3 separate regions of the Homo sapiens genome follow, and all the other regions are linked to region 1. The links come from fine-mapping of genetic effects on gene expression. A gene starts in region 1. Each other region holds a variant in brackets. All regions are shown on one strand. Distances are from middle to middle.

The links. PIP is the estimated chance that this variant, and not a neighbour inherited with it, causes the effect.
Region 2: its variant is the best candidate, but not a certain one, in a credible set for the expression of RPAP1 in hippocampus (GTEx, PIP 0.83).
Region 3: its variant is the best candidate, but not a certain one, in a credible set for the expression of RPAP1 in cerebral cortex (GTEx, PIP 0.86).

Annotation. Positions count from the first base shown.
Region 1 is chr15:41,538,555-41,548,507 of GRCh38, reverse strand. It overlaps RPAP1 (RNA polymerase II associated protein 1), which reads left to right and starts at 4,251. Exons shown (of 25, transcript NM_015540.4): 1 at 4,251-4,289. RefSeq lists enhancers at 4,107-4,496, 4,430-5,011 and a silencer at 5,491-5,691.
Region 2 is chr15:41,521,123-41,531,075 of GRCh38, reverse strand. It overlaps RPAP1 (RNA polymerase II associated protein 1), which reads left to right. Exons shown (of 25, transcript NM_015540.4): 7 at 1-53; 8 at 1,097-1,212; 9 at 1,508-1,606; 10 at 2,740-2,841; 11 at 3,049-3,216; 12 at 3,471-3,653; 13 at 3,775-3,909; 14 at 4,008-4,178; 15 at 5,928-6,085; 16 at 6,822-6,980; 17 at 7,104-7,305; 18 at 7,722-7,831; 19 at 8,116-8,311; 20 at 8,826-8,978; 2 more. Among named protein-coding and RNA genes, the nearest start is that of LTK, 12 kb to the right of the region's middle. The variant A/C (reference allele first, on the strand shown) is at 7,084.
Region 3 is chr15:41,504,441-41,514,393 of GRCh38, reverse strand. LTK (leukocyte receptor tyrosine kinase) reads left to right here and starts at 567. Exons shown (of 20, transcript NM_002344.6): 1 at 567-727; 2 at 1,274-1,417; 3 at 1,516-1,687; 4 at 2,129-2,279; 5 at 2,431-2,577; 6 at 2,816-2,972; 7 at 3,048-3,230; 8 at 5,265-5,363; 9 at 6,173-6,325; 10 at 6,737-6,832; 11 at 7,104-7,299; 12 at 8,389-8,479; 13 at 8,617-8,681; 14 at 8,864-8,993; 4 more. The coding sequence starts at 685. RefSeq lists a silencer at 1,202-1,281 and an enhancer at 988-1,735. The variant C/A (reference allele first, on the strand shown) is at 5,080.

The DNA of each region.
Region 1 (9,953 bases):
TAGAACAGGGTCTTCCTACGTTGCCCGGGCTGGTCTTGAATTCCTGGCCACAAGCAATACTCCTGCCTCAGCCTACCAAAGTGCTGAGATTATAAGCATGAGCCACCACACCCAGTCTTTGAAACAAAAAAACATAGTCTTACCCAATAAAAATTTCATAAATCCTCGCTGGGTGTGGTGGCATGCACCTGTGGTCCCAGCTACTTGGGAGGCTGAGGTGGGAGGATCACTTGAGCCTAGGAGGTCGAGGCTGCAGTGAGTCATGACAGCACCACTGCACTCCAGCCTCGGTGACAAAGCAAGACCCTATCTCAAAAAAAAAAAAAAGTAAATCCTTAATATCATACAAAATCTAGTTTATATTTAGTATTCCCTAACAGTCTCAAAAAAACAGTTTCAAAAATGAAGATATAAACAAAGACCGCATTTCATATGTTATAGTCTCTGCCCAGTGCAGTGGCTTACACTTGTAATCCCAGCATTTTGGGAGGCTGAGGTGGGCAAATCACCTGAGGTCAGGAGTTTGAGACCAGCCTGACCAACATGGTGAAACCCTGTCTCTACTAAAAATACAAAAATTGGCTGGACGCAGTGGCTCACGCCTGTAATCCCAGCACTTTGGGAGGCCGAGGTGGGTAGAACACCTGAAGTCAGGAGTATGAGACCAGCCTGGTCAACATGGTGAATTGAAACCTTGTCTCTACTCAAAATACAAAAATTAGCCGGGCATGGTGGCATGTGCCTGTAACCCCAGCTACCTGGGAGGCTGAGGCAAGATAATCACTTGAACCCAGGAGGCAGAGTTTGCAGTGAGCCGAGATCACACCATTGCCCTGCAGCTTGGCAACAAGAGCGAAACTCCGTCTCAAAAAAAAAAGAAAAAAGTTAGCCAGGTATGGTGGCACACGCCTGTAATCACAGCTACTTAGGAGGCTGAGGCAGGAGAACCACTTGAACCCAGGAGGCGGAGGCTGCAGTGAGCCGAGATCATGCCACTGCACTCCAGCCTGGGCAACAGAGCAAGACTCCATCTCAACAACATAAAATAAAATAAATAATAAATAAATAGTCTCGGCTGGTGCAGTGACTCATGCCTGTAATTCCAGCATTTTGGGAGGCTGCGGCGGGTGAGTCACTAGAGCCCAGGAGTTTGACACCAGACTAGGTGACATGGCAAAACCCTGTCACTACAAAAAATAAAAGAATTAGCCACGTTTGGTTCAGGCCTGTGATCCCAGCTATTCAGGAGGTTGAGGCAGGAGAATCGCTTGAGCTCAGCAAGCAGAGGGAAGCAGAGGTTGCAGTGAGCTGAGGTTGCACCACTGCACTCCAGCCTGGGCAACAGAGCAAGACCCTATCTCAAAACAGTAGAAAAGATTCATCAGTAAGTTCATATAATGGCAACCTGATCCATCCATATAAAGTCTGCATCAACCTTTCACCTAGTTGTTAAACAATGACTGTTAAAACTATTAGGTCAAAGGTTGATGAAGACTTTATATGAGGCTGGGTGTGTTTTCCAACCTTAGCAGGCACCAAAATTAAGTGGAAGGCTTGTTAAAACAGAATGCTGGAGCTGGGGATGGTGGCTTATGCCTATAGTCCCAGCATTTGGGAGGCCAGATCACCTGAGGTCAGGAGTTCGTGACCAACCTGGCCAACATGGTCCAACCGTGTCCCTACTAAAAATACAAAACTTAGCTGGGCGTGGTGGCACCATTGCCAGGAGCCATTATCTCGTTATTTCATTGCGAACAATTATTTTCTACTATCATTCATTCTGCATATTTGGCTCCAGTTCCTCTCCCTCATCCCGCTGCCTCCATAACTTCTGACCAGGTCTAGTACTATTTTGGACCTCAAGATGACTAAATCCTAGTAGCCGAAATTTACATCTGTAGTTGAAGCCAAGAGGATTATAGATCTGCTATAGTGCGGGACCAGCAGCATCACCTAGAAACTTGGTAGAAATACAAATTTTGGGGCTCTATTAGAAACCTACTGAATCGGCTGGGCACGGTGGCTCACGCCTGTAATCCCAGCACTTTGGGAGGCCAAGGCGGGCAGATCACGAGGTCAGGAGATGGAGACCATCCTGGCTAACACGGTGAAACCCTGTCTCTACTAAAAATACAAAAAAGTAGCCCGGCATGGTGACAGGTGCCTGTAGTCCCAGCTACTCAGGAGGCTGAGGCAGGAGAATGGTGTGAACCCGGGAGGTGCAGGTTGCAGTGAGCTGAGACTGCGCCAGTGCACTCCAGCCTGGGCGACAGAGCGAGACTCTGTCACAAAAAAAAAGGAAACCTACTGAAACAGGCCAGGTGCAGTAGCTCATGCCTGTAATCCCAGCACTTTAGGAAGCTGACGTAGGTGGATCACCTGAGGTCAGGAGCTCGAGACCAGCCTGGCCAACATGGTGAAACCCCGTCTCTACTAAAAATACAAAAATTAGCTGGGCATGGTGGCGGGCGCCTGTAATCCCAGCTACTCGGGAGGCTGAGGCAGGAGAATCACTTGAACCCAGGAGGAGGTTGCAGTGTGCCGAGATCATGCTATTGCACTCCAGCCTGGGCGACAAGAGCAAGACTCCGTCTTAAAAAAAAAAAAAGAAAGAAAAAGAAAAACCTACTGAATCAGAAACTCAGAGGTTGAGGCCCAGCAATCTGTTTCGTTTTGTTTGAAACAGAGTCTGGCTCTGTGGCCCAATCTGGAGTGCAGTGGTTCCATCTTGGCTCACTGCAACCTCCGCTTCCCAGGTTCAAGTGATTCTCCTGGCTCAGCCTCTTGAGTAGCTGGGACTACAGATGGACACCACCATGCCCTGCTAATTTTTATATTTTTAGTAGAGATGGGGTTTCACCATGTTGGTCAGGCTGGTCTCGAACTCCTGACCTTAGGTGATCTGCCAGCTTCAGCCTCCCAAAGTACTGGGATTATAGGCATGTGCCACTGTGCCTGGCCCCAGCAATCTGGTTTAACAAGACTTCCAGTTGATTCTGGTGCCTGTTAAAGTTGGAAAGCCACTGGACTAACATTGGCTGCCCCATGATGTCCTTTGGTCTAGAAATGATTTACTTAAGGTCCTACTATGTGCATGGCAACACGTTGGGTGCTCAGTATTTAGATGCAAAGTACAAGGTCTGGTGCCCACAAGGAACTGACAGTCTATTCAAGGGAACAGGACATAAGCCTGTGAAAAGGTAACCGGTGACAGTTGGTAGTTGGCAGTGTGTTCTTAGCATACCACACAACTGGTGCAGGCGGTGAGATTCCAGGTGAATCCAAGGAAAGTTTGGTGAGTAGGCGTGGCTGGCAGAGGTTTTAGAGTTGACGCCAGCTAGGCCTTAAAGAGTTATCCTTTGGAGACAGGGGTGGCAGGGAAAAGAGGGAGGATTTCCAAGAAGGGAGAGTGGGATGAACAAAGGCAAGATTCTGGAGAAGATGATAACCTTGCTAGCAAGGAAGCTTTATTCCCTCTCTTCTCACCACCACTATTTCTGCAGTGCACACTGGCAGTGTTCTTTCCTTGGGCCTTTTTCATGGTTACCTTCTAGCTCTTCCATAAACACATTCGTCACGTTGGGGTGTGTGTGTGTGTCCACGTTTCTGTGTGCTGCCGTGGGCGTGGGTGCTGGGATGTGGGATGTGGTAACACTGGCTGGTGAGTGCAGAGGGACGTCTGAGGAACGCTGTGTCCCTGCCAGGGGTGTCGTAAGTGCAGAAGGGGCTGTGCCTGCTGTACATCAGAAGCATGTGTGGGCCAGGCGCGGTGGCACATCCTGTAATCACAGCACTTTGGGGGGCCGAGGCGGGCGGATTACCTAAGGTCGGGAGTTCGAGACCAGCTTGGCCAACATGGTGAAACCCCGTCTCTACTAAAAATACAAAAATTAGCCAGACGTGGTGGCGGGCACCTGTAATCCCAGCTACTCGGGAGGCTGAGGCACAAGAATCGCTTGAGCCCGGGAGGCGGAGGTTGCAGTGAGCCGAGATTGCGCCACAGCACTCCAGCCTGTGCGACAGAGCAAGACTCTGTCTCAAAAAAAAAAAAAAAAAAAAAGGATGTGTGTTCTGGGTGATGGTATAGAGCTTACGTGGGGGTAATAAACCGCCAGCCGCGCAGCACCGCGCTCACCAGTCCGCTGCACTGAACAAGCAAAGCCCAGAATGCTCCGAGATAAGACCGGGAGAGGCGGGGCTGGGCTGCGGGGCGGAAGCTGGAATCTGGCGGCGGCGGAAACGCGATCTCTGCGGGGCAAGATGGCGGCGCCCAGACAGGCCTGGAGCACGTAGGTGGCGGGGCTGGAGGGACGGATTTCAGGTGATCTGGGAGGAGGACCCAGGGTAGCGTGTCCAGTTTCTTTGCTGGAACCTGCCTGCGGGCCTTTGGTCTGTAAGGGAGCAACTGTGGCCTCCTCTGTGCATAGATCTCGGGCACGGCCCTTCAACGGGCGGCGAAAGCTGCGACTCGATGATTCCTCATTGTAGAGTTGGGTGGTCCAGGAGGCTTAACTGGAGCCCTTGACCTGAGCGGTAAGGGCAGTCACGCGTCCCGACTCGGGATTGGATCCTGGCTCTGGAGGATAGGCTGCAATGTAAGAGCCCCAGAGACTCCTCAGAGGCCAACATAAACCCAGAGGTCCATTGTTAGGACTACTTTTTTTTACGAGTTACTCTTTAGGCATTACTCTTTAGGATTACAGGCGTGAGCCACCGCGCCCGGCCAACCCATTCTTATTCTATTAATAACTGAAAATGTTATCACTTCTAGCACTGATTGGTTCTGGACAAATCTGCGCTGGATTTGTGGGGAAACACACTGGTGGCTTTACTTAGGACTAAAATAATTGTTACTGAGGTTTATTTATATAAGTAACAGGCACTGGGCTAGGCGTTTTGCGTGTATAGTCATTTAAATCCTCACACATTTCCTATTATATAGGACCTGTTACTCACATTTTACAGTTGTGGAAATGGGACTTAAGACAGCATAGAGGCCGCGCACGGTGGCTCACGCCTGTAATCCCAGCACTTTGGGAGGCCGAGGCGGGCGGGTCACCTGAGATCAGGAGTTCGAGACCAGTCTGGCCAACATGGTGAAACCCCGTCTGTACTAAAAAAATACAAAAAATTAGCCGGGCGTGGTGGCAGGCGCCTGTAATCCCAGCTACTCGGGAGCCTGAGGCAGGAGAATCACTTGAACCCAGGAGGCGGAGGTTGCAGTGTGCCGAGATCGTGCTATTGCACTCCAGCCTGGGCAACAAGAGGGAGAATCTGTCTCAAAAAAAAAAAAAAAAAAAAAAAAAGGACAGCATTGATAATTTGCCTAATTTCGCACATTTAGTGCATTTAGTAAGTAGCGGAACTGGTATTTGACTTCTGGCCTATTGATTCCAAAACTGGTGCCCATAACCCCCTGGCTCTCTTTGTGATGTAGGTATGGCGCACCCTATGAAGTGAGCTGGACTTTGCTTTTGGATCACATGAATCCATGGATAAGTAGGAATTGTTTCTGCTTATGTAGACTCTTATAGGAGTGAATTGTTACCATACTATGGATTCTCAGTTCATCTAGTTCAGCCTTCCTTAGGGCCTTTGGGTAGGCATTGGGGTAGGAGACTTTTTCCTTGTTTGTTGGTCAGACTGCCCAACAATTAGATATGGTTATCTGCCCTTTGGCTATATAAATAATAAGAATCATAACTGGCGTTTGTGTCCTTTCATGTATGAGACTCTGTTCTAATCTTCTTACATATATATAATTAATTCAGGAGGTAGGTACAGTTATCTTCATGTTACAGATGAGGAAACAAGCACAGTAACTTCAGTAAAATACCTTGCTTAAGCTTACACAGTTAGTAAATGGCAGAGCCTGGATTTGAACACAGGCAGTCCATTTTCATACTGTTTACCTCCCATCCAGGAAAAGGCACATCTGTATACTTCGCTGTTGTCATGCTACAAATAGTAATTAATACAAGTTCTATGCCAAATTTAAGATGAAATTTTGTAGACAGGTCTTTGCTCACTTCATCCACTTCCTTCAGTTCTCTACTTATCTAAGTTTTCTCTTTCAATATTGACCTCTATTTTTAACCTTTAGGGATTTTTCCCACCTCTGAAATCGTGTAGCACTGATCTTCTATGCAATTAATTTCATCACTGGGATGTACTGCCTTGTAAATTTATATGTGTGTTTACCATATTCTCTCACCCCAACTTTGGGTACATCATTGACCAAAGGAAGACCTTTACAATCTTGGAGACATCATTTAAACTGTAAACCTTTGGAATTTCTAGACTTGTGTGGGCAAAGAGAGATAATGAAGTGGGAAATTATTAAAAGACCCAGCATTTCGGCATGGTCTCTGTCTCCCCAGTAAGCCCCTTGAACCCAGGGACTGGATTTTACTCCCATTTCTTTATATTTACAGCCCCTTGTACACCGCTCAGCCCAGAGTAAACTCTCAAAAAATTTTTTGATAATGTTCTTAAGGTCACACCGTCATGTGATTGTTTCACCATTTCTACCCCTTTAGCCTGCCCCCAACCCCTGTGTTGGGAGGTGTTTCCAAGGCTGGCTTAGTTATTAGATCTGATCCTGCTTAGAAGTAGATGAAGAAAAAGTAAGGAAATGTGTCATTCAGCACTTTTTTTTTGAGACAGAGTCTCATGCTCTGTCCCCCAGGCTGGAGTGCAGTGGCACGATCTTGGCTCATTGCAACCTCCACTTCCCGGGTTCACGCCATTCTCCTGCCTCAGCCTCCCCAGTAGCTGGGACTACAGGCGCGTGCTACCACACCCAGCTAATTTTTTGTATTTTTAGTAGAGACGGCATTTCACCGTGTTAGCCAGGATGGTCTCGATCTTCTGACCTCGTGATCTGCCTGCCTTGGCCTCCCAAAGTGCTGGGATTACAGGCGTGAGCCAGCACACCCGGCCTTCATTCAGCACTATTGTTAGTTCCAGCTATCTAGCTTGTCTACCTCTCCATCTCATCCTCCTTCAACTTTTAGGAGGTGGTCAACTTCATCATGTTCTCCCATGTACCATATTTATTCCCTGCTTTTTTTTTTTTTTTTTTCAAGATGGAGTCTAGCTCTGTCACCCAAGCTGGAGGGCAGTGGTGTAATCTTGGCTCACTGCAACCTCCACCTCCTGGGTTCAAACCGTTCTCCTGCCTCAGCCTCCCAAGTAGCTGGGAGTACAGGCACATGCCACCACGCCTGCCTAATTTTTTTGTATTTTTAGTAGAGATGGGGTTTCACCATGTTGGCCAAGCTGGTCTTGAACTCCTGACCTCAGATGATCCACCCACCTCAGCCTCAAAGTGCTGGGATTACAGGTGTGAGCCACTGCGCCCGGCCCTATTCCCTGCTTCTATACCTTTGCCCAGCTCTCCCTTCTGGCTGGAGGCCTATCTTATCCTTCAAGGTCTGGTTCAGTGGTTTTCAACTGGGGGTGATTTTTTTCTGAGGTGACATTTGGCAATGTCTGCAGACATTTTTACTTGTCACAACTAGGGGAGGAGGTTTGATGATGACGTCTAGTGGGTAAAAGCCAGGAATGCCGCTAAACATCCTACAGTGCGCAGGACAGCTTCCCACAGCAAAGAATTACCCAGCTATAAAGATCAATAGTCCCTATTGAGAAACCTTAGTGTAGTTGCAGCCTTTGCTCTTCAGGAGATTCTTTATAGTTCTTCCCCATCTGCCTCACTATTCCAGACTTCCAGGACACCCAGGCACCACACAGCAGTAGGCAGTAGAACATAGTGGGTAAGAGCATGGACTGACTGGGATTGAATCCTAATCCTAGCACACACTTACACTGAGACCTTGAGCAAATACTTAACTTCTCAGCACTATTCTTTTCTCAGCTGTAAAATTTGAATAATAGTAGTAACTGGCCCGTTGCAGTGGCTCACGCCTGTAATCCCAGCACTTTGGGAGGCAGAGGCGGGCAGATCACCTGAGGTCGGGAGTTCGAGACCAGCCTGACCAACATGGAGAAACCCAGTCTCTACTAAAAATACAAAATTAGCTGGGCGTGGTGGCACATGCCTATAATCCCAGCTACTAGGGAGACTGAGGCAGGAGAATCGCTTGAACCTGGGAGGCGGAGGTTGCAGTGAGCCGAGATCGTGCCATTGCACTCCAGCCTGGGCAACAAGAGTGAAACTCCATCTCAAAAAAAAAAAAAATAGTAGTAACCTACCTCCTAGGCTGTTATGAGGATTAAATGAATGAATATGGAAAAAGTGCTTAGAGAACAGTATGTGGTGCATACTAAGTGCTCAATAAGTGTTAGATATAACAATATTTTTATTATTATCAGCATCTAGCTCAGGGGTTCCAAAACTAGCCAGCCAGCTTGCAGATATCTTTGGCCAGCCCAGCGTTTTTTGTTTTATAATTGATTTATAGTTTATATACCACAGAAGTCATCATTTTATTTTATTATTATTATTTTTTTGAGACGGAGTCTCACTCTGTCGCCCAGGCTGGAGTGCAGTGGTACGATCTTGGCTCACTGCAGCCTCCGCCTCCCAGGTTCAAGTGATTCTTCTGCCTCAGCCTCCTGAGTAGCTAGGATTACAGGCACCTGCCACCACACCCGGCTAATTTTTTTTGTATTTTTAGTAGAGACTTCACCATGTTGGTCAGGCTGGTTTGAACTCCTGACCTCGTGAGCCACCTGTCTCAGCCTCCCAAAGTGCTGGGATTACTGATGTGAGCCACCGAGCCTGGCCAGAATTCATCATTTTAAAAGTTTACAGGCCAGGTGCAGTAGCTCAGGCCTGTAATCCCAGTACTTTGGGAGCCCAAGGTGGGCAGATTTCTTGAGCCCAGGAGATCGAGACCAGCCTGTACAACATGGTGAAATCCTGTCTCTGTAAAAAACACAAAAATTGTGGGGCACGGTGGCTCACGCCTGTAATCCCAGCACTTTGGGAGGCCAAGGCAGGTGGATCATGAGGTCAGGAGTTCGAGATCAGCCTGACCAACATGGTGAAACCCTGTCTCTACTGAAAAACTACAAAAAATTAGCCAGGCATGGTGGTGGGCGCCTGTAATCCCAGCTACTCAGGAGGCTGAGGCAGGAGAATCACTTGAACCTAGGAGTCAGAGGTTGCAGTGAGCCGAGATCGCGCCATTGCACGCCAGCCTGGGCAACAAGAGCAAAACTCCGTCTCAAAAAACAAAAAACAAAAAACAAAAAAAAAAACAAAAATTAGCTGAGTGTGGTGGTGCATCTGTAGTCCTAGCTTTTTGGGAGACTGAGGTGGGAGGACGGCTTAAGCCCAGGAGGTAGAGGTTGCAGTGAGCCAAGATCACGCTACTGCACTCCAGCCTGGGTGACAGAGCCAGACTCTGTCACAATAAATTAATAAAGTTTACAATTCATGGCTTTTAGTATATTCACAAGGTTGAACATTTTCATTACTCCAAAAAGACGCTCCATACCCATTAGCTGTCAATTCCCATTTCCCTCCAGCTCTCCTAGCCCCTGGCAACTACTAATCTACTTTCTGTCTCTATGGATTTGCCTATTTTGGACATTCCATATGAACAGAATCATACAATATGAGGTCCTTTTTGGCTAGCTTCTTTCTTTCTTTTCACTAAATAAAATGTTTCTGAGTCATATAGCTTCTTTCACTTAGTATAATGTTTTCAATGTTTGTGCATTGGAACTTCATTCCTTTTTGTTGACAAATAAATGTAAGGTCTCTATGTTAATTTCTTTTTTGCCTTTGTGCCATGGTTACGTAAAGTCTTAACCTTTGGAGAAACTGGGTGAAGACTACATATGGAAACTGTTCATACTATCTATATAAATCTGTAAATCTAACATTATAACAAATCACAAGTTTAAAAAGTACATAAATTTACAGTATATAGAGAAAAATAGAAATATGCATATTTTATCATGATACAAAACATTTGATT
Region 2 (9,953 bases), 17 kb after region 1:
AGCTTTTGCCAGTGAGCCCAGGAAGAGAGACAAGCTGGAGCCAGAAGCCCCAGGTTTGCAGGAGGCGGGGGTCATATTTTGGTGGATAAAAGTAGGGGAAATTGTCCCTTTTCCTAGGCCTGGCAAATGAGAGAAGAGAGAAGCTTCTGTGCTTTTGGACATCTAACATTAATCCTCATTATTGGCTTCAAGTCAGTCTTCATTGCTGATGCATGTCTTCTTCCTGCACATGCTTCCTGTTTTCTTGTCCTGTTACTGCCCCTTCTCCGCCTTCCCTTTTAAGAGGCAGCAATGCGTGATGGCTGAATCCCACTCCACCCGCTCCCGGCAGACTATCTTCCTGTCCTTGCTGTAGCTGCCCCAGCTCTGGCTCTGTCCATCCCACTGTTCTTTCTCTCTCTGCTCACAGTGCTGGGGGAAAGATGGCAGGGCCAGAGTAATAAGAGAGGCAGAATCTGACAAAGATCTTATGAACATGCCAGACCAGAAGCAGAGAGGCCAGTGGAAGCACTCATTTCCCAGAAACTAGATTATTTCATTAGTGATTAACAAAATAAGAAATTGAATTATGAGAGCCAGGAACCTCATGCCCCCGGAGGAGCTCCAGGCCAGCTGAGCAGGTTGGGTGGGGGTAGGCGTGAAGGAGGAAAATGCTGTGGGATTTGTTTCTGTATCCTGCCCCCCAGGAGCAGTATAGTTGCCTCCTCCTCATTGTCCCCACTCTCCTACTCCTTTAAGGGCTGGTACTGGAAAGTGGAGATGGTGCCTTCCTGACATATGTGGTCCTCCTTCTTCATCTTTTTCTCCTTTCTTTCTCTTTCTTCCTTCTCCTTCTCCTCCTCTCTCCCCTCCCAACAAATCCTTGGGGTCAGCAAGGGGCTGGAGCCCAGGATGGAGTGTGTCTGTCATATTTGAGACTTTCACCCCAGCCCCAGGAGTTCCAGTCCCTGGGCCATGCCATTTAGCCATAACCGAGGGTAGAAGCTGGCAGATCCTGGAACAGAAGTGGATGTGGCAGCTGCTGGGTGATGGTGGGGACCCCTGTGGATAGTGAGCTGAGCCGTTTGGGTAATACTATCATGCTTTGTCTCCCCAGCTCTGGCATTGCCCGTGACCCCTCAGAAAGAATGGCTGCACATGGACACTGTCGAGCTGGAGAAGCTCCACTGGACCCAGGACTTGCCCCCTGTCCGGCGGCAGCAGACACAGGAGGTGAGGAGGGCCACCTGGCCTACAAGGGGTGGGTGAGATAGGGCAGGAGAGGAGCTGCTGCTCTTGCCCTCAGAACTCAGGCCTTTCTATTGCCCAGAGCCTGAGAAGCATCTCTCCTTTGCTCTCACCCACCTTTACCATCACTCTGCCTGGCCCCCAAGGCCAGATAAGCCCCATTTCTGGTAGAAGTAGAGTCAGTACCTAAGTCCTGAAAGGCCTGGGATTAAAGGTGGGGAGTGGGTGTGGGAAGGTTGCTGGAGCCCCCAGACCACAGTCCTCTTTCTCTTCCCATTAGAGGATGCAGGCTCGATTCAGTCTTCAGGGAGAACTACTGGCCCCTGACGTGGACCTGCCCACCCACCTGGGTCTGCACCACCATGGAGAGGAGGCAGAGGTGAGGCATGGGACTGGAGAGGATGGGGCAGCTCTTTTAACAACCCCATGGAAAAGGATCTCTGGTCAACTGCCTTTGACCTTCTGTGTGCCCTGTTCTAGTTCATGCCTTTGCTGTGCATTCAGTTTCTTTTTTTGGAGACAGAATCTCGCTCTGGCCCAGGCTGGAGTGCAGTGGTATGATCTTGGCTCACTGCAGCCTCCACCTCCTGGGTTCAAGCCATTCTCCTGCCTCAGCCTCCTGACTAGCTGGGATTACAGGCGCATGCCACCACGTCCAGCTAATTTTTGTATTTTTAGTAGAGACGGGGTTTCACCATGTTAGCCAGGATGGTCTTGATCTCCTGAGCTTGTGATCCGCCTGCCTCGGCCTCCCAAAGTGCTGGGATTACAGGCGTGGCATTCAGTTTCTTAGGCTCAAAATCTTGATCCTCTCTCCGTATTCTGGTCAGTTGCTAGAATTTGCCGATCTTCTGTCACCTCCTCATGATGCCTCCTGCACTGTGGCCTTGCTTCCTTGGTCTGCTCACTCTCCATGCCCTCCATTCTCCGCCCCCCTGCCATTCCATGTCTCTCGGGGCTGCTGTGCTGATTTCTTCTGGCCCAGCTCAGGCCATGCCTTGCCTCCAGAAGTTTCCCAGCTTCCCTCTGCTCACAAAATAAGGTTCTGGTCTCAGCTGGGCAAGATATTCCTTCTACCTTTTGTCCCTGCTGACCCTGCTGCTCTGCCTCCTTCACTTCCTGCTACACCACTCTGCTGGCTTCTCCCCACATACCTCCTGTGCTCAGGGCCCTCCAGGACTCCACTCGCTCCAGGAAATGCCTTTGCCTTTTGCTCCATGTCAGGCCATCAAAGCTCTACCCATCCACTGAGACCAATTTAATTTTCCAGGTTCCCTTCTCTCTCTCTCCTGTCCGCCGGTCGCAAATTAAACATCAGTTATCACGTTCCTCTGCATCTGCCTCATGGCATGGTTACTTGTATGCAAGTCTTATCTTTACCGGCTTGAGGCTCCATGGAAAGCAGGGCAGATTTCACTTATTTATCTTTGTCTTTCCTGTGATACCTTGCTTGGTGTTTTGGGGGCACTGTGCTGTATCCTGGCTGCTTCTGACTTCTTGTCCCTGCCCCAGAGAGCGGGGTATTCCCTACAGGAGCTGTTCCACCTGACCCGCAGCCAGGTTTCCCAGCAGAGAGCACTGGCACTGCATGTGTTAGCCCAGGTCATCAGCAGGGTGAGTGGATTGCCAGCCTGGTCCTGCCCACCCTTCCCTTCACCCCACAGCCTCAGACTTCCCCATCTCCTGCCCTTTTCACTCTGGCTCACTAGCCAGCTATGTGCTTTTAACAACCTAGGATCATAGGGGGGCAAACGAAGGATTAGGGCAAAGCCTCTAGATAACTTCAGCATCTTCAGCAAGGTTTTACCCTCCTGCCCTCAGGCCCAGGCTGGTGAGTTTGGGGACCGGCTAGCAGGCAGTGTCTTAAGCCTCCTTTTGGATGCTGGTTTCCTCTTCCTACTGCGCTTCTCCTTGGATGACAGAGTGGATGGGGTCATTGCAACCGCCATCCGTGCTCTTCGGGCTCTGCTGGTGGCTCCTGGAGATGAGGTACCACAGGGATAGGAATGGGGCTTGGGCTGGGAGGTGCCAGGGTCCATATTCCTGTTCCTGGGCATGGCCCCATTGCTAAGGCTTTGCGGGCAAGATGTAGAATGGGATGGCAGGCGTCTCCCTCATCTCCTAAAGTCCCTAAAGCCCAGGAGGCTTGCCTTTATGGTTTTTATTGGGGAGCATCCTCTCTACTCCTGGATCCATTTCCTGGCCCCTTCAGCATTGCCCCCCAACTCCCGTTCCTCTGGCAGGAGCTCCTCGACAGCACCTTCTCTTGGTACCATGGAGCTTTGACGTTCCCTCTGATGCCCAGCCAGGAGGACAAGGAGGATGAGGACGAGGATGAAGAATGCCCAGCAGGAAAAGCAAAAAGGAAAAGCCCTGAAGAAGAAAGCCGGCCTCCACCTGACCTGGCCCGACATGATGTCATCAAGGTAAAGGGACAGCTTCTTTCCCATCCCATGGCCCAGGGGACAAGCACATGCTGGAAAGAGGGGCCATCAATGCCCAGGGTCCAGCTGCATTTGTCAGTGGGTTTCTCTCTCCAACTCCCAGGGGCTCCTGGCTACCAGCCTGCTGCCTCGGCTGCGCTACGTGCTGGAGGTGACATACCCAGGACCTGCGGTGGTCCTTGACATCCTGGCTGTGCTCATCCGCCTGGCCCGGCATTCCCTGGAATCAGCCACAAGGGTGAGAAAAAAGGGAGCAGGGAATGGGCAAAAAGCCTAGCTGGGCCTTGTCTTGACCCACAGCCTCCCTTCCTCCCTTTTACCTCCTGTCTCCCATAGGTCCTGGAGTGCCCTCGGCTGATAGAGACTATAGTTCGAGAGTTCTTGCCCACCAGTTGGTCTCCTGTGGGGGCAGGGCCTACCCCTAGTCTATACAAAGTACCCTGTGCTACTGCCATGAAACTACTTCGTGTCCTGGCCTCAGCTGGGAGGAATATTGCTGCCCGGCTGGTGAGCAGGACACAGGGCAAGGGATGGGGGAATGCATGGGACAGGGTTGGGTTGGGAGCTAAACATGGCTCCTGAACTCTGGGTGGCCAGCTCTTGCCATCTTCTTCCTCTCTGATCCAGTTGCTTAGAAATGCAACAGAAATCACCAGGCATGAACCTGTTTACTGGAGCCTGTTTACTGGAGCCTGGTGCATCATATAGGTATACTGTGGTCTCATGATGTAATAGGAGGTCTCCCTGTTCCCTAGACCCAGATCAGAAGGGCTTCATGCACATAGGCATTCATCATCTATAGCCAAGTAGCCCTAGAGAAGGTGCCCAGCAAGCCTTGCTATAAAGAGGGAGGGCTGGGTGTAGTGGCTCAGGCCTGTAATCCCAGCACTTTGGGAGGCCAAGGCAGGAGGATCACTTGGGGCCAAGAGTTCAGGGGCCAGCCTGGACAACATAGCAAGACTCTGTCTCTACAAAAAACAAAAACAAAAAATTAGCTAGATGTGGTAGCACATGACTGTAGTCTCAGCTACTCGGTAGGCTGAGGTAGAAGGATCACTTGAGCTGGGAGGTGGAGGCTGCAGTGGGCTGGTTGCACCAATCACTGCACTACAGCCTAGGCAACAGGGCGAGACCCCGTCTCAAAAATACTACTACTGGCCAGGTGCAGTGGCTCACGCCTGTAATCACAACACTTTGGGAGACCGAGGTGGTGGATCACTTGAGGTCAGGAGTTCGAGACCAGCCTGGCCAATATGGCAAAACCCCACCTCTACTAAAACTACAAAAATTAGCCAGGTATAATAGTGTGCGCCTGTAGTCCCAGCTACTTGGGAGGCTGAGGCAGGAGAATTGCTTGAACCCGGGAGATGGAGGGTGGAGTGAGCCAAGATCACACCACTGCATTCCAGCCTGGGTGGCAGAGCAAGATTCCATCTAAAAACAAATAATAGGGCCGGGCGCGGTGGCTCACACCTGTAATCCCAGCACTTTGGGAGGCCAAGGCAGGTGGATCATGAGGTCAGGAGTTCAAGACCAGCCTGACCAAGATGGTGAAACCCTGTCTCTACTAAAAATACAAAAAATTAGCCAGGCGTGGTGGCATGCGCCTGTAATCCCGGCTACTCCAGAGGCTGAGGCAGAGAATTGCTTAAACCTGGAGGGGCAGAGATTGCAGTGAGCCGAGATTGCGCCACTGCACTCCAGCCTGGGCGACAGAGCGAGACTCCATCTAAAAAAATAATAATAATAAAAATAAAAAAATAATAGGGGCTGGGTGCGGTGGCTCACACCTGTAATCCCAACGTTTTGGAAGGCCGAGGTGGGTGAATCACGAGGTCAGCAGTTCGACACCAGCCTGGCCAACATAATGAAACCCCGTCTCTACTAAAAATACAAAAATTAGTCGGGCATGGTGGCGCATGCCTGTAGTCCCAGCTACTTGGGAGGCTGAGGCAGGAGAGTCTCTTGAACCTGGGAGACAGAAGTTGTGGTGAGCCAAGATCACTCCACTGCACTCCAGCCAGGGCAACAGAGCAAGACTCCATCTCAAAATAATAATAAATAATAAAAAGTAAAATAATAAAATTGAAATTTTAAATAAATAATAAGAAGGAAGGGCAGGGTGGATGAGGTATGACTTTGTGGCACCAGAGGGGCCTGGGTCAGGGTTGAGTTAAGCCACTCTCTGTCCAGCTGAGAGTAGCTGGACTTGAGACTCACAGCTGACCCTGATCCTCAGACTGTGCCCATTTCCAGTTGAGCAGCTTTGATCTCCGGAGCCGCCTGTGCCGCATCATAGCTGAGGCTCCCCAAGAACTGGCCTTGCCCCCAGAGGAAGCTGAGATGCTGAGCACCGAGGCCCTCCGTCTGTGGGCTGTGGCTGCCTCCTATGGCCAGGGCGGTTACCTTTACAGGTGAGGAGAGGCAGGGGGTAGGCTCCCCCTAGACACCTTCAGTTCTGCTCTTCTGGCCAAATCAAACACCTCAGCCTTGCTCAAGGTCCCAAGCTTGGAGGAAGGATAAGAATGAGTGGGAGGGCTTCTGCCAGATGTGAAAAGGCTTAGGAGTCAGGCCCAGCCAGGGAAGAGGGGGATAAACCTGGCTTAACCGTATTCTATGCTCAAAATCATTAGCCGGGCACTGTGGCTCATGCCTGTAATCCCAGCACTTTGGGATGCCAAGGTAGGCGTATCACGAAGTCAGGAGTTCGAGACCATCCTGGCCAATATGGTGAAACCCCGTCTCTATTAAAAATACAAAAATTAGCCAGGCGTGGTGGCACACACCTGTAATCCCAACTACTCGGCAGGCTGAGGCAGGAGAACCGGTTTAACCTGGGAGGCAGAGGTTGCAGTGAGCCGAGATCACTCCATCACTCCACTGCACTCCAGCCTGGGCAACAGAGAATGTCTCAAAAAAAAAAAAAAAAAAGCATTGGTATCTGTGAAATCACATTTAAATTCCCTGTTGGGGGCAGCCTTGAAGGACAACATCCTTTCCATTCTTTAGGGCTGAGCCTTCCAAGAGTGCCCCACTCTTCCTCCTCATCCTCCTTTATCAAACTGCAGATCCCTGGGTCAGGGCCATGACCTGTGTCTCATGTCTCCACTTGCTTTCATACAGTGAAAATCAGTCCCTGTTCTTCCCTAGGGAGCTCTACCCAGTGCTGATGCGGGCCTTGCAGGTGGTGCCGCGGGAGCTCAGCACCCACCCACCTCAACCCCTGTCCATGCAGCGGATAGCCTCACTGCTCACTCTCCTCACCCAGCTAACCCTGGCAGCCGGCAGTACCCCTGCTGAAACCATCAGGTAGTTTATAGCCAGGACCCACAGGACAGGTGGAGGGCTCCTCCACAGGGCTGGGGTGGCTGGAGTGTAAAGGGGCGTGAGGCAGCCAGATCCTCACTGTGGC[A/C]CCCTTTGGCACTTTTGTAGTGATTCTGCTGAGGCCAGCCTCTCGGCCACCCCTTCCTTAGTCACTTGGACACAGGTGTCTGGGCTCCAGCCTCTTGTTGAGCCGTGTCTAAGGCAGACCTTGAAGTTGCTGTCCAGACCTGAGATGTGGAGAGCCGTGGGCCCAGTGCCCGTTGCCTGCCTGTTGTTCCTGGGAGCCTACTACCAGGCCTGGAGCCAGCAAGTGAGTGCCTCCTGCCGGCTGTCCACCAGGCCCCCGCACCCTGCCTTCAGCTACATTCCACCCGTTGCTCCCTCTCTGTGTCCATCTCTCCACTCCTACTTCCCCATTTACTATCTTCCCTTTTAATTCCTACCCTTCCTCCTCTTTCTACCTCCATATCCCCGTGGAGCTTCCCAGGAGCCATGTTGGTGGGGACCAGAGAGCCCACGCAGCAGCTCAGCCTTCCTGTAGCCTGTGTGCTCCCTCTTTATGCCCCCTACACATCGGGGCCTTCTCTCCCTTCAGAAGGCTCAGCCTGCAGAAGCCTCCAAATGTGCTCTTTTGGGCTGTTGGGATGGTGGCATTGGCCTGGGTACACAGGGTCTAGGAGAATGAATGGCTGGGCCATCAGCTCAGTGAATTCCTTGGTCCACCAGCCAAGCTCATGCCCGGAGGATTGGCTCCAGGACATGCAGCGCCTGTCAGAGGAGCTGCTGCTGCCACTGCTGAGTCAGCCCACACTGGGCAGCCTGTGGGATTCCCTTAGGTATGTACTGTGTTTGGTAGCTGGGGGAAGCAGGGGAGGAGGCAATTTCTTTCCTTGTGGGATTCCTGGGTCCAGCTCCCAGGTCCATCCCAGGGTGCAGGCCCTCGGCCCGAGGGAAACCCGAGTCCCTAGCAGGCAGCAGTGGGGTGGGCTCTGAGGAGTGTGAGCAGCACTGACCTCCACAGCCAGGCCCCCCGTTAGTCTTAGGTACAGACCCAGAAGCTCTTTCCAGCTTGGCACACGCCAGGCCAGAGTCCCCCTCAGACTCTCCACTTCACCTACAGGCACTGCTCCCTTCTCTGCAACCCGCTGTCCTGTGTGCCAGCCCTTGAAGCTCCCCCCAGCCTCGTGTCACTGGGCTGCTCGGGAGGCTGCCCCCGTCTCAGTCTGGCTGGCTCAGCCTCACCCTTCCCATTCCTCACTGCCCTCCTCTCTCTTCTTAATACCCTGGCCCAGATCCACAAGGGGCTGTGTGGCCAGGTAAGTGTGGGGTGCCTGATTAGGGGCCAGGCAAGGGGCCAAGATGGCAGGAATCAGAAAGAAAGTGGGAGGGTGGGATGGGCGCGGTGGCTCACGCCTGTAATCCCAGCAGTTTGGGAGGCCGAGGTGGGCAGATCACCTGAGGTCGGGAGTTCGAGACCAGCCTGGCCAACATGGAGAAACCCCATCTCTACTAAAAATACAAAATTAGCCAGGCATGATGGCACATGCCTGTAATCCCAGCTACTCGGGAGGCTGAGGCAGGAGAATCACTTGAACCCGGGAGGCGGAGGCTGCGGTGAGCTGAGATCACACCATTGCACTGCAGCCTGGGCAACAAGAGCGAAACTCCATCTCAAAAAAAACCAAAAAGAAAGTGGGAGGGTGTCCCATGGGGAAGGGAGGCCTTCTGCTGGCACTCATTTCCCTGAGTCTGGAGAGGGGCAGCCACCTGGGGAGCCCTAGAAGGCATGAGAGTCAATTTCTAGATCTGAACAAAATTGCTTTTCCTCAGCTGGCTGCCATATTGGCTGCCCCGGGACTCCAGAATTACTTCCTCCAGTGTGTGGCTCCTGGGGCTGCCCCACACCTCACACCTTTCTCTGCATGGGCCCTGCGCCATGAGTACCACCTGCAGTACCTGGCACTCGCTCTGGCCCAGAAAGCGGTAGGTCCCCCTGTCTGACAGGTTCTCCTGTCATCCCATTATCTCCTTCCTGTTTCTGTGGAACCCAGCCTGCTTCTGCCAGGCCATGCAGCTCCCACTTTCCTCCAGACATGCCCTGGACCTCTGCCCTTCAGCCTCACTTTTATCCTCTTCCTCACTTCTCTCTGCCACGTCCCCTTCTCCTGTACTAGGTAGTTCCCTGCTTTTCTGTCTGCAGGCAGCGCTGCAGCCACTGCCAGCCACCCATGCTGCCCTCTATCATGGTATGGCCTTGGCCCTGCTGAGCCGGCTGCTGCCCGGAAGTGAGTACCTCACCCATGAGCTGCTGCTGAGCTGTGTATTCCGGCTGGAGTTCCTCCCGTAAGTGCTTGGTTGGTGGCATCAACTCAGCCCTTTTGGACGCTGCTGCAGTTGTTAACAGAGCAGCCCTGAATTTGGAGCCAGGAGACCTAAATTCTCTTTCTTCCACCGACGACACTTAACTCTTCCGAGCTTCCATTACCTCATTAGTGAAGTGAGGATCAGGCTAACCACACCCAAGAATGATTGTGAGACTTCAGTGTGACTGCATGGCTAAAAAAATGGTATCTAAATCAGTTACACACATGTAATAGCCATCCGCTACTGAGTGTTTACTCTGTGTTTGATACTCCCTTATGTATTTATCTACATTTTAAGTATTTTACTTGGACCATGAGATAGATACTATTATTATCCTTATTTTACTCTGAGGAAACTGAGGCCCAGAGAAGTTATGTAAACTCATGCCTAGGCAGCTGGCTGTAGTGTGCATCCTCTTAACTGCTACACAGCACTGCGCGGGAAGTAGTTAAGGGAGCAGAGAGGCACAGGTCTGGACCTAGGAGCCTCCAGGAAGTTCCAAAGAGCTGGCACAGCCTCCAAGTGCTGTGGTTCCAGCCCTCATTTTTGGCTTTTGGGTCCCATTACAGGGAAAGAACATCAGGGGGTCCAGAG
Region 3 (9,953 bases), 34 kb after region 1:
AACGTCTGGTCCAGTCTTTCACCCCATCACAGTGAGAGGCTGTGCACAGGGGTAACACAGGCAACGGAATTATATGAGGCAAACACAGAGATCCAGGTTTCTGGGAGTAGCAATGAGGTTCAGCCTTGCAGTCACAAAGGCACCACTAAAAGGCACAAGTAATGGCAGGTAATGAGGCCTTACTTGGAGCAGTTTAGAGTACTTCCCACGTGTGGTGACGCATGCCACACACTCACCACCACCACCACTGCCACAAATGAAGTGCACACTCCACTGCTCCTGTCCTCAGGAACCTGGAAGCCCCCACCTGGTGTCCGAGGTGTGGCTCCCACTTTAAGCGTGGGGCACCTCCTCTCCGGCCTCAAACCTACCGGAGCTCCCAGCAGGCTGCGGCACATCTGACGGCTGGAAACTAGAACCCCTGGGTGGGGACTCCTTAAGGCTCCTCCCGGAAGCGTAGGGACCTCGCTGCCCACACGCCCCTCCCTTTCCTCCTCTGGCGTCCTGGGGTCTGAGGTGGGCGTGGCCAGACCAGCTTTAGGTCCGGGGAGTGTCTCGCCAGCGGCAGCACACCCCTGTAAGTGGTGGCCAGGGCTGCCGTGGCAAAATGAGCTGTCAACTTTAGGTTGACAGGGGTGTGGCCGCGACCGCAAGGGCTTTTGTTGCCGGGTGGACCCAACAGGGATGGGCTGCTGGGGACAGCTGCTGGTGTGGTTCGGAGCCGCGGGTAAGTGCTATCTGGCGGTCAGGGGACCGTCCAGCCTGAGGCACTTTCCTAGGCTTGGGGGTGGCCGGTCAACAGGCCAGGTGTCAGTGGTTCCTCCAGAGGCCTCGAACTCTCACAGCCAAATTTCTCCGGTCCGTGCTTCTGGAGTGCGGGCCGAGAAGCGCCAAGTGCGTGCGAATCCCAGAGTCTGGATCACGCAGCTTGGGAAGGAGGAACATTCTTTGGGGTCTCAGCACCGCCTTGGGGCGGGGCCACCAATCTAAGTTGAGGAAAGCATTGGGGAGGCTGCAGGACCAAATTCATTGCGGCCCCTAAGTTATTCACTGGGAAAGGCGCTCGAGGAGAGAAACTGGCAGACCTATCAGCGCGCACCCGCGGGGCTTCTGCGACCGGAGTCGGGTAGTGGCTTCCAGGCTGAGAGCGCGGCTGGGCCGGGTGACGGGTGTGGCCGCGACCGCAAGGGCAGCTGTTGCGGGGTTCTCTCTTTCTTTCATATCCTATTTCCACCCGCCTTAACGTCCTGCGCCTTCTCCCAACACCTTTCAGGCGCCATTCTCTGCTCTAGCCCGGGGTCCCAGGAGACTTTTCTGCGGTCCTCGCCCCTGCCGCTGGCAAGTCCCAGCCCCCGGGACCCGAAAGTCAGCGCCCCGCCTAGTATCTTGGAGCCAGCCTCCCCGCTGAATTCTCCGGGTGAGCTTTAGACGCCTCCTTCCTCTTTCGCTCACCATACCAGACCCCTCTGGCCCAGCCAGGGGCTCGACGACCCTTGCCTCGCTCCTTGCTCTCAGGCACCGAGGGGTCTTGGCTGTTTTCTACCTGCGGGGCCAGCGGCCGGCATGGGCCCACACAGACACAATGTGACGGGGCGTACGCGGGGACCAGCGTGGTGGTGACCGTGGGGGCCGCCGGGCAGCTGAGAGGCGTGCAGCTGTGGCGCGTGCCGGGCCCTGGCCAGTATCTGTAAGTGCACGGCGGAGGTAGGGTGGACAGTGACCTGCTAGTTGGAGGTTTCACCCTCAGGGTAACGAAGTCCACGTGCGCACCGACTTGCGTCTTGGACTATTCCGCGGGGAGGTCCACCTTGAGTGCCCTTCAAGGTGGCAGTAGTCGCCACCGAGTTAGCCCTTACCCGGAACCTCTTACACCGAGCGGAAGGCCCCCAACCAGGGCGGCGCCAAGGGGTGCTTGAGCCTCCCCACATTTCCACGAACCCTCCTGAAATAAGTGTAATATCTGATTTTTCGGTGTGCAAACCTACCCTTCCCATCCCGTCAGAGTCGATTGCAGCCTCCAAGTCCCTCAGATAAAAAATAATTCTGGAGCCTCCTCTGTCGCCAACTTCTGCCCGGAGCGGCCGGCCTGAGCACCGAAGGCCGGGGACTCACCGTCCGTTCCCCGCAGGATCTCAGCCTACGGAGCCGCGGGCGGCAAAGGCGCCAAGAACCACCTGTCGCGGGCGCATGGCGTCTTCGTCTCAGCAATCTTCTCCCTCGGTCTCGGGGAGTCGCTGTACATCCTGGTGGGGCAGCAGGGAGAGGACGCCTGTCCCGGAGTGAGCGCAGCCAGTGGGGATGGGGCGGCGCCGGCGCCGGGGGCGAGGGCTGCCTGGGGGCCGGGGGAGCGTGCTTTCCTCGGTGCCGGGTCACCAGCACAGCGAGGGGAGGCTCCCGGGCCCCGCCGATTCCCTCCCCCGCTGCCCGCAGGGTAGCCCGGAGAGCCAGCTCGTCTGCCTCGGGGAGTCTCGAGCCGTTGAAGAGCACGCGGCGATGGATGGGAGCGAAGGGGTCCCGGGGTCGCGGCGCTGGGCGGGAGGTGGCGGGGGTGGCGGGGGCGCCACCTACGTTTTCCGGGTACGTGCTCCCTTCGGCGCTCAGCGTTGGGGTCCCAATCCTCTCCCCAGGGGCGCTCACGCACCGGCTCTCCGTCCGTCCCTTGGGGTCCCCCTATCCCTGCGCTGGGCTGGGCTGGCCTGGGCTGGGCTGGGGGCCCCTGCCCTTATCCAGGCCCCCTGGGCGGGAGCCCTCTCCCAGTGGCAGTGCCCCTGGACAGCTGGAGGGCGCTTCCTGGAACACGCCGCTGGCCCCACAGGTGCGCGCTGGCGAGCTGGAACCGTTGCTGGTGGCGGCCGGAGGCGGCGGTCGGGCCTACCTGAGGCCGCGGGACCGAGGCCGGACTCAGGCCTCCCCCGAGAAACTGGAGAACCGCTCGGAGGCGCCCGGGAGCGGCGGGAGAGGCGGGGCGGCAGGTGAGGGCGCGGGCCGCGGGGAGAGGCGGGCGTGCTCCCCGTGTGGCTGCCAACCTTCCTGCTGTCGCTCTGCAGGTGGTGGGGGCGGCTGGACGTCGCGGGCTCCCTCTCCGCAGGCCGGCCGCTCACTGCAGGAGGGGGCGGAGGGCGGCCAGGGCTGCTCCGAGGCTTGGGCGACCCTTGGCTGGGCCGCGGCCGGCGGCTTCGGGGGCGGCGGCGGGGCCTGCACTGCGGGCGGAGGCGGCGGCGGCTACAGGGGTAGGTGCACCGTTGGAGAGGGCAGCTGAGCAGGCCCGAGGGTGAGGTGATGTTAGAACCTAAGTACAGGCCGGAGCCCTCGGGAGGATAGGTGTGGGAGAGGCATTAAGCCCTGCTCAGCAGCTCCAAACAAAAAGCAGGAGCTCTTAGAAAAGGAGGTCAAATACACTGCAAATCAGCATGCAGACAGGACTCCCTAGATTTCCGTTTAATCCAGGATCTTTCCCATCACAGCAGGTCCCTGCCTTGTTCTGCAGCAGTCTTCAGAACTTAGAGCTGGCCGAGTGAGCAAGCTGAGCAAAGGGGCAGAAAGGCAGGATTGGGTTAAGTCAGTGGTTCTCAAAGTGTGGTCCAGGAACAGGTAATATCCCCACAACCTAAGTTGTTCGAAATGCACATTATCAGCTGGGCCTGGTGGCTCACGCCTGTAATTCTAGCACTCTGGGAGGCCAAGGCAGGTGGATCACCTGAGGTCACCAGTTCGAGACCAGTCTGGCCAACCTGTGAAACCCTGTCTGTACTAAAAATACAAAAATTAGCCGGGCGTGGTGGCGGGAGCCTGTAATCCCAGCTACTCTGGAGGCTGAGGCAGGAGAATTGCTTGAACCTGGGAGGCGGAGGTTGCAGTGAGCCGAGATCACTCCATTGCACTTCAGCCTGGGCGACAAGAGGGAAATTCTGTCTCAAAGATTAAAAAAAAAACAATGGAAATTATCCTGGGAGTTGGGGGAAGGTTGGGGAGATGCTGGTCAAAACAATGCAAAATGGCAGTTAAATAGGAGGAATACCTTCCAGAATCTACTGTACTACATGGTGACTGTAGTTAATGACGATGTATTCTTGAAAATCGCTAAGAGAGGCGGGGCGCGGTGGCTCACGCCTGTAATCTCAACACTTTGGGCGGCGGAGGCGGGTGGATCTTGAGGTCAGGAGTTTGAGGCCAGCCTGGCCAATATGGTGAAACCCCCATCTGTACTAAAAATACAAAAATTAGCCGGGCGTGGTGGCATATGCCTGTAGTCCCAGCTACTCGGGAAGCTGAGACAGGAAAATCGCTTGAACCCGGGAGGCGGAGGTTGCAGTGAGCCAAGATCGTGCCACTGCACTCCAGCCTGGGTGACAGAGCAAGACTCTGTCTCAAAAAAAAAGAAAAGAAAATTGGTAAGAGCGTAGATTATAGGTGTTCTTACCACAGAAAATAAGCATGTGAGGTGGTGTATATATTGGTTTGCATTAGCCATTGCACAGTGTGTACATATTTCAAAACATCATGCTGTATACAATAAATATATGAATTTTTTTTTTAGATGGAGTCTGGCTCTGTTGCCCAGGCTGGAGTGCAGTAGTACAAATCTCAGCTCACTGCAACCTCCGCCTCCCGGGTTCAAGCAATTCTCCTGCCTCAGCCTCCTGAGTAGCTGGGATTATAGGCATGCGCCACCATGCCCGGCTAATTTTTGTATTTTTAGTAGAGATGGGGTTTCACCATGTTGGTCAGGCTAGTCTCGGACTCCTGACCTCGTAATCCGCCCATGTCGGCCTCCCAAAGTGCTGGGATTACAGGCGTGAGCCACCACACCTGGCCCTGAATTTTTATTTTTAATTAAAAATTAATTTTTAAAAAGAAATGCGAATTCTCAGCCCTTCTCTAACATACTGAATCAGAAACTGTAAGGGAGAGTCCCAGTCATCTGTGTTTTGATCAAATAACTAGTGTAAATGCCTTTGTGCCTGTCTGGGCTGTACTGCTCATACATACACACATGATCTACATTCTCACAGAAAGGGACTGTGAGGACATGGGACAGGAGGGGCTCAGGCAGGCAGGAGGCATCCCAGCCAGCCTCAG[C/A]GAGGCCTTCAGGCTCCAGCTGATTACCCCCTCCTCACCTCCTTCACTCCCACTTGTGAACAGACAGCATTTGCATCATGATGCTGGAGAAGAGAGGGCCACACTGGGATTTCCACCGGGAGATTCCAGCTTCTCCCCCATCCCCCATTTTTGTAGTCAAACTCTCCATCACTCTCCACTTCCAGGGGGCGACGCTTCAGAGACTGACAACCTCTGGGCTGATGGGGAAGATGGAGTATCCTTCATACACCCCAGCAGCGAGCTCTTCCTGCAGCCTCTGGCAGGTATTGGCCCCAACCCCACCTCTGAGCCTGGCCTGGACTTCTTCCGCAGTCCCTGAGCCCACTCCTGCACTGCACTGAAGAGCCACCTGCACTGTGAATAACCTTGCATAGCACAGGATTCTTGCATAGCATAGGGTCATTTGAAAAGTGGGCTGTCATCATGCCATTGCACTCCAGCCTGGGCGACAAGAGCAAAACTCTGTCTTAAAAAAAAGGAAAGTGGGCTGCCAGTCGTGCTGGATGGCAATGCAGGGCATGCTGCGTGCTTTTCAAGTACCCCCTTGCTATGAATTCGCTTCAAATACCTGGGAGTGTGCAGGCTTGACAGAAGTCCCCCAGCTTCTCTCACCACCCTTGTAAGCTTGGTGCTGCTCTTTGCTCTAAAGTCCTGGGCTAGAATTAACCATGTGGCTGGAAAAGGCATGTATTTATTTATTTATTTATTTATTTATTTATTTATTTATTTTTATTTTTGAGACAGAGTCTCGCTCTGTCACCCAGGCTGGAGTGCAGTGGTGCGATCTTGGGTCACTGCAACCTCCGCCTCCCGGGTTCAAGTGATTCTGCAGCCTCAGTGCTGGAGTAGCTGGGATTGCAGGCGTGCGCCACCACACCCGGCTAATTTTGTATTTTTAGTAGAGGCGGGGTTGGCCAGGCTGGTCTTGAACTTCTGACCTCCGGTGATCCGCTCACCACGGCCTCCCAAAGTGCAATGATTATAGGCGTGTGCCACTGTACCCAGCCAAAGGCATGTATTTACTATATCCCAGCCCTACCACACCATATCATATCAGTTCTTTTACTCACAGTCACCGAGAACCACGGAGAGGTAGAGATCCGAAGGCACCTCAACTGCAGTCACTGCCCTTTGAGAGACTGCCAATGGCAGGCAGAGCTCCAGCTGGCTGAATGCCTGTGCCCAGAAGGCATGGAGCTAGCTGTGGATAACGTCACCTGCATGGGTATGTCCTACCTTTGCCCAAGGTCTGGACTCCTGGGGTCACAGACTGGGAGGAGCAGTAGGCCACTGGGAAAGATGGTATAGAGATTTGCTGTGTGCCAGGCCCTGTGGTGGGTGCTGGGCAGGGGATTGGAGATTCATCGGTGCACAGTGCCTTTCAGAGGCCTGTCGTCCAGTGTGGGAGGATGTTTAGATATAGCTATGTAAATGTATATCTCAAGTGACGATTGTTGTGGGAGGTATAAAGTGCTTTAGGGGTGTTCAAGAGGGAGAGGTTGCTTTTGCCCAGGATAATGGGGGAAGGCATCATGGAAAAATTAACACTTGAGCTGAGTCTTGAAGCGTGGGTAAAACTTGAGGGTAAAGGAACAGAGAAGACCTTCCCACTGGAGGTGTCTCTCTTTCTCCCTAGACCTGCACAAGCCCCCAGGCCCTCTGGTTCTGATGGTGGCTGTGGTGGCAACCTCAACACTGAGCCTCCTTATGGTGTGTGGGGTCCTGATTCTGGGTACGAAGCGTCTAGCAGGCACAGTTGATTCAAGGCTGCTCCTCTCCAGTGAGCTGGGATGGGTTTCTGCGGGGTCCCGGGGCTGACTTCAAGACCACTCACCGCAGCAGAGCCGTGGTAGACTCCTCTGGGATTCTAAGATAGGAAGGAGCTGGGGAGGCCTGGGGAAAACGTTTACCTTAATGAGCATCTGGAGGGGTGTCCTGGGCAGGTGGGGGAGGGAGAGTTGATGGGCAGGTGGAGGGTGTGCCGTTATTCTTCCCACCCCCAGTGAAGCAGAAGAAGTGGCAGGGCCTGCAGGAGATGAGGCTGCCGAGCCCTGAGCTTGAGCTGAGCAAGCTTCGAACCTCTGCCATCAGGACAGCCCCCAATCCCTATTATTGCCAGGTGGGGCTTGGCCCGGCCCAGTCCTGGCCTCTGCCACCAGGTGTCACCGAGGTTTCCCCAGCCAATGTTACTCTGCTCAGGTAAGTCTTCTGCCTCCTTCTGAGAACCTATGCACTCTGAATCCCCACCTCTGATTCTCTCCCTGCTGTAGTGAATTATAAGTCCCAGAAAAAATCTGGCCCACATCCCTTGTGTAAGGGAGAGGGAGGCCCTGAGAAGCTCCAGAAGGGGAAGTAACTTGCTCAATGTCACCTCTCCGTCCCAGTTCTTAGAATATGATCTCTCAGCTGGGCGTGGTGGCTCACACCTGTAATCCCAGAACTTTGGGAGGTCGAGGCAGGCAGGTCACCTGAGGTCGGGAGTTCGAGACCAGCCTGACCAACATGGAGAAACCCCATCTCTACTAAAAATACAAAATTAGCTGGGCATGGTGGCGCATGCCTGTAATCCCAGCTACGTGGGAGGCTGAGGCAGAAGAATCACTTGAACCTGGGAGGCGGAGGTTGTGGTGAGCCGAGATTGCGCCATTGCACTCCAGCCAGGGCGACAGAGTGAGACTCTGTCTCAATAAAAAAAAAATATGATCTGGCGCCTGTAATCTCAGCACTTTGGGAGGCCAAGGCAGGTGGATCACCTGAGGTCAGGGGTTCGAGACCAGCCTGGCCAACATGGTGAAACCCTGTGTCTACTAAAAACACAAAAAATAGCTGGGCGTTGTGGCGCTTGCCTGTAGTCCCAGCTACTCGGGAGACTGAGGCAGGAGAATCACTTGAACCCGAGAGGCAGAGGTTGCAGTGAGCCGAGATCGCGCTATTGCACTCCAGCCTGCATGACAGAGTGAGACTTCGTTTAAAAAAGAAAAAAAATCATGACTCTTGGAGCCCAGGGATTGCCTCCCGCCCAGGGCGTCTGCAGGGACCAGGGAAGTCCTCATCATGCACTCCCACCTTGACTCTGGCCCGCATCTGCCCTCTTTTTTGCCCTGGCTCTATGCCAGTGAGCACCACCCTTGCAGGGCTTCTACCTGGGGACATGCCATGGTATGGAGAGAGTCTATATAGGGTCAGCTGGGCATATGGCAGGGGCAGGGGAGGTAAAGGGGGTACTAGACTCTCTAGGACTCTTCTCCAGGCCGCCTGCCCACTCCCTTCCAACGTGTCTTCCTGCAGAGCCCTGGGCCATGGTGCCTTTGGGGAGGTGTATGAGGGACTGGTAATTGGCCTTCCTGGGGACTCCAGTCCCCTGCAGGTAGCTATCAAGGTGAGAGGAGTGGGACTTCTGGCTGGGGGTAGGAGAGCGGAACACCCTGAAGGGAAGGACAATGACTAGAGCTAGGGTTAACCCCCTCTCCTGAAGCGTGCAGGGCAGCTCAGAAACTGTGCCCTTTTCCTCCCCAGACCCTGCCAGAACTCTGCTCGCCTCAGGATGAGCTGGATTTCCTCATGGAGGCCCTCATCATCAGGTGCACCTGGGACCAGGGGCAGGGCTGGAAGGCGGGAGGGGAATGCCCGGGAACAGTTTCTCTTCACCCTGAGGCTGAGGTAGCAAGTCAGGGGACACAGAGGGCCTCTCCAGCTTTGTGGAGCCTAAAACATGGTTTCCGTCTCCCTCCTGGTAACGGGATATGTCCCCCACCCCACTCAGCAAGTTTCGCCATCAGAACATTGTGCGGTGTGTGGGGCTCAGCCTCAGGGCCACCCCTCGCCTCATTCTGCTGGAACTGATGTCTGGAGGGGACATGAAGAGTTTCCTGAGGCACAGTCGGCCACACCTGGTGAGACCCTTGTCTTAGCCCCCCCAGGCCCCTCTAAAGACCCTGTCCATGTGTCTGAGACCTACATGGACTGATGCCCCCTCTGCCTGACCCAGGGCCAGCCATCACCTCTGGTCATGCGGGACCTGCTGCAACTGGCCCAGGACATAGCCCAGGGCTGCCACTACCTGGAGGAAAATCACTTCATCCACAGGTTAGGAGCAGTCCTGGCTCAGGGGACCCCCATCCCAACTCCCTCCCCAAGGAACAGCCCTTCCACACAGCTTTTAAGGAAATAGATCAGGAAGAGCAAGAACTTCTAGATTCTGGCAGTGATTTTTTTTGCCTACTCTGTAGGGATATTGCCGCCCGGAACTGCCTGCTGAGCTGCGCTGGACCCAGCCGAGTGGCCAAGATTGGGGACTTTGGGATGGCACGAGATATCTACCGGTGCGGGACTTGGGAGGTGGGAAGGCTCTTGCTCCAAGGGGGTTTTCCCCGCACCTTGGTGGTGAACAACTCATCATTCACCTCCTCCCTCCTGTAGGGCCAGTTATTACCGCAGGGGGGACCGGGCCTTGCTCCCAGTCAAGTGGATGCCCCCAGAGGCCTTCCTGGAGGGCATCTTCACATCCAAGACAGATTCCTGGTGATAACACCCTTCCCCTCCCCTTCCCCACTGTTCCCCTCCCCTGAGGCTAATCCTGTCCTTTCCAGCCACCTCATGTGAGGGGAGGCTACACCTGACGGGCCTCACTTGGTTCCCCCACTTGTGATGCAGGTCTTTTGGGGTGCTGCTCTGGGAGATCTTCTCACTGGGCTACATGCCCTATCCTGGGCGCACCAACCAGGAGGTGCTGGACTTCGTCGTTGGAGGAGGCCGGATGGACCCTCCTAGGGGCTGCCCAGGGCCTGTGTGAGTTGAGTGCTGCCCGGGAAGGGAGGTCCTTCACAACCATGGGTGGGCATGAACTCCTGCCT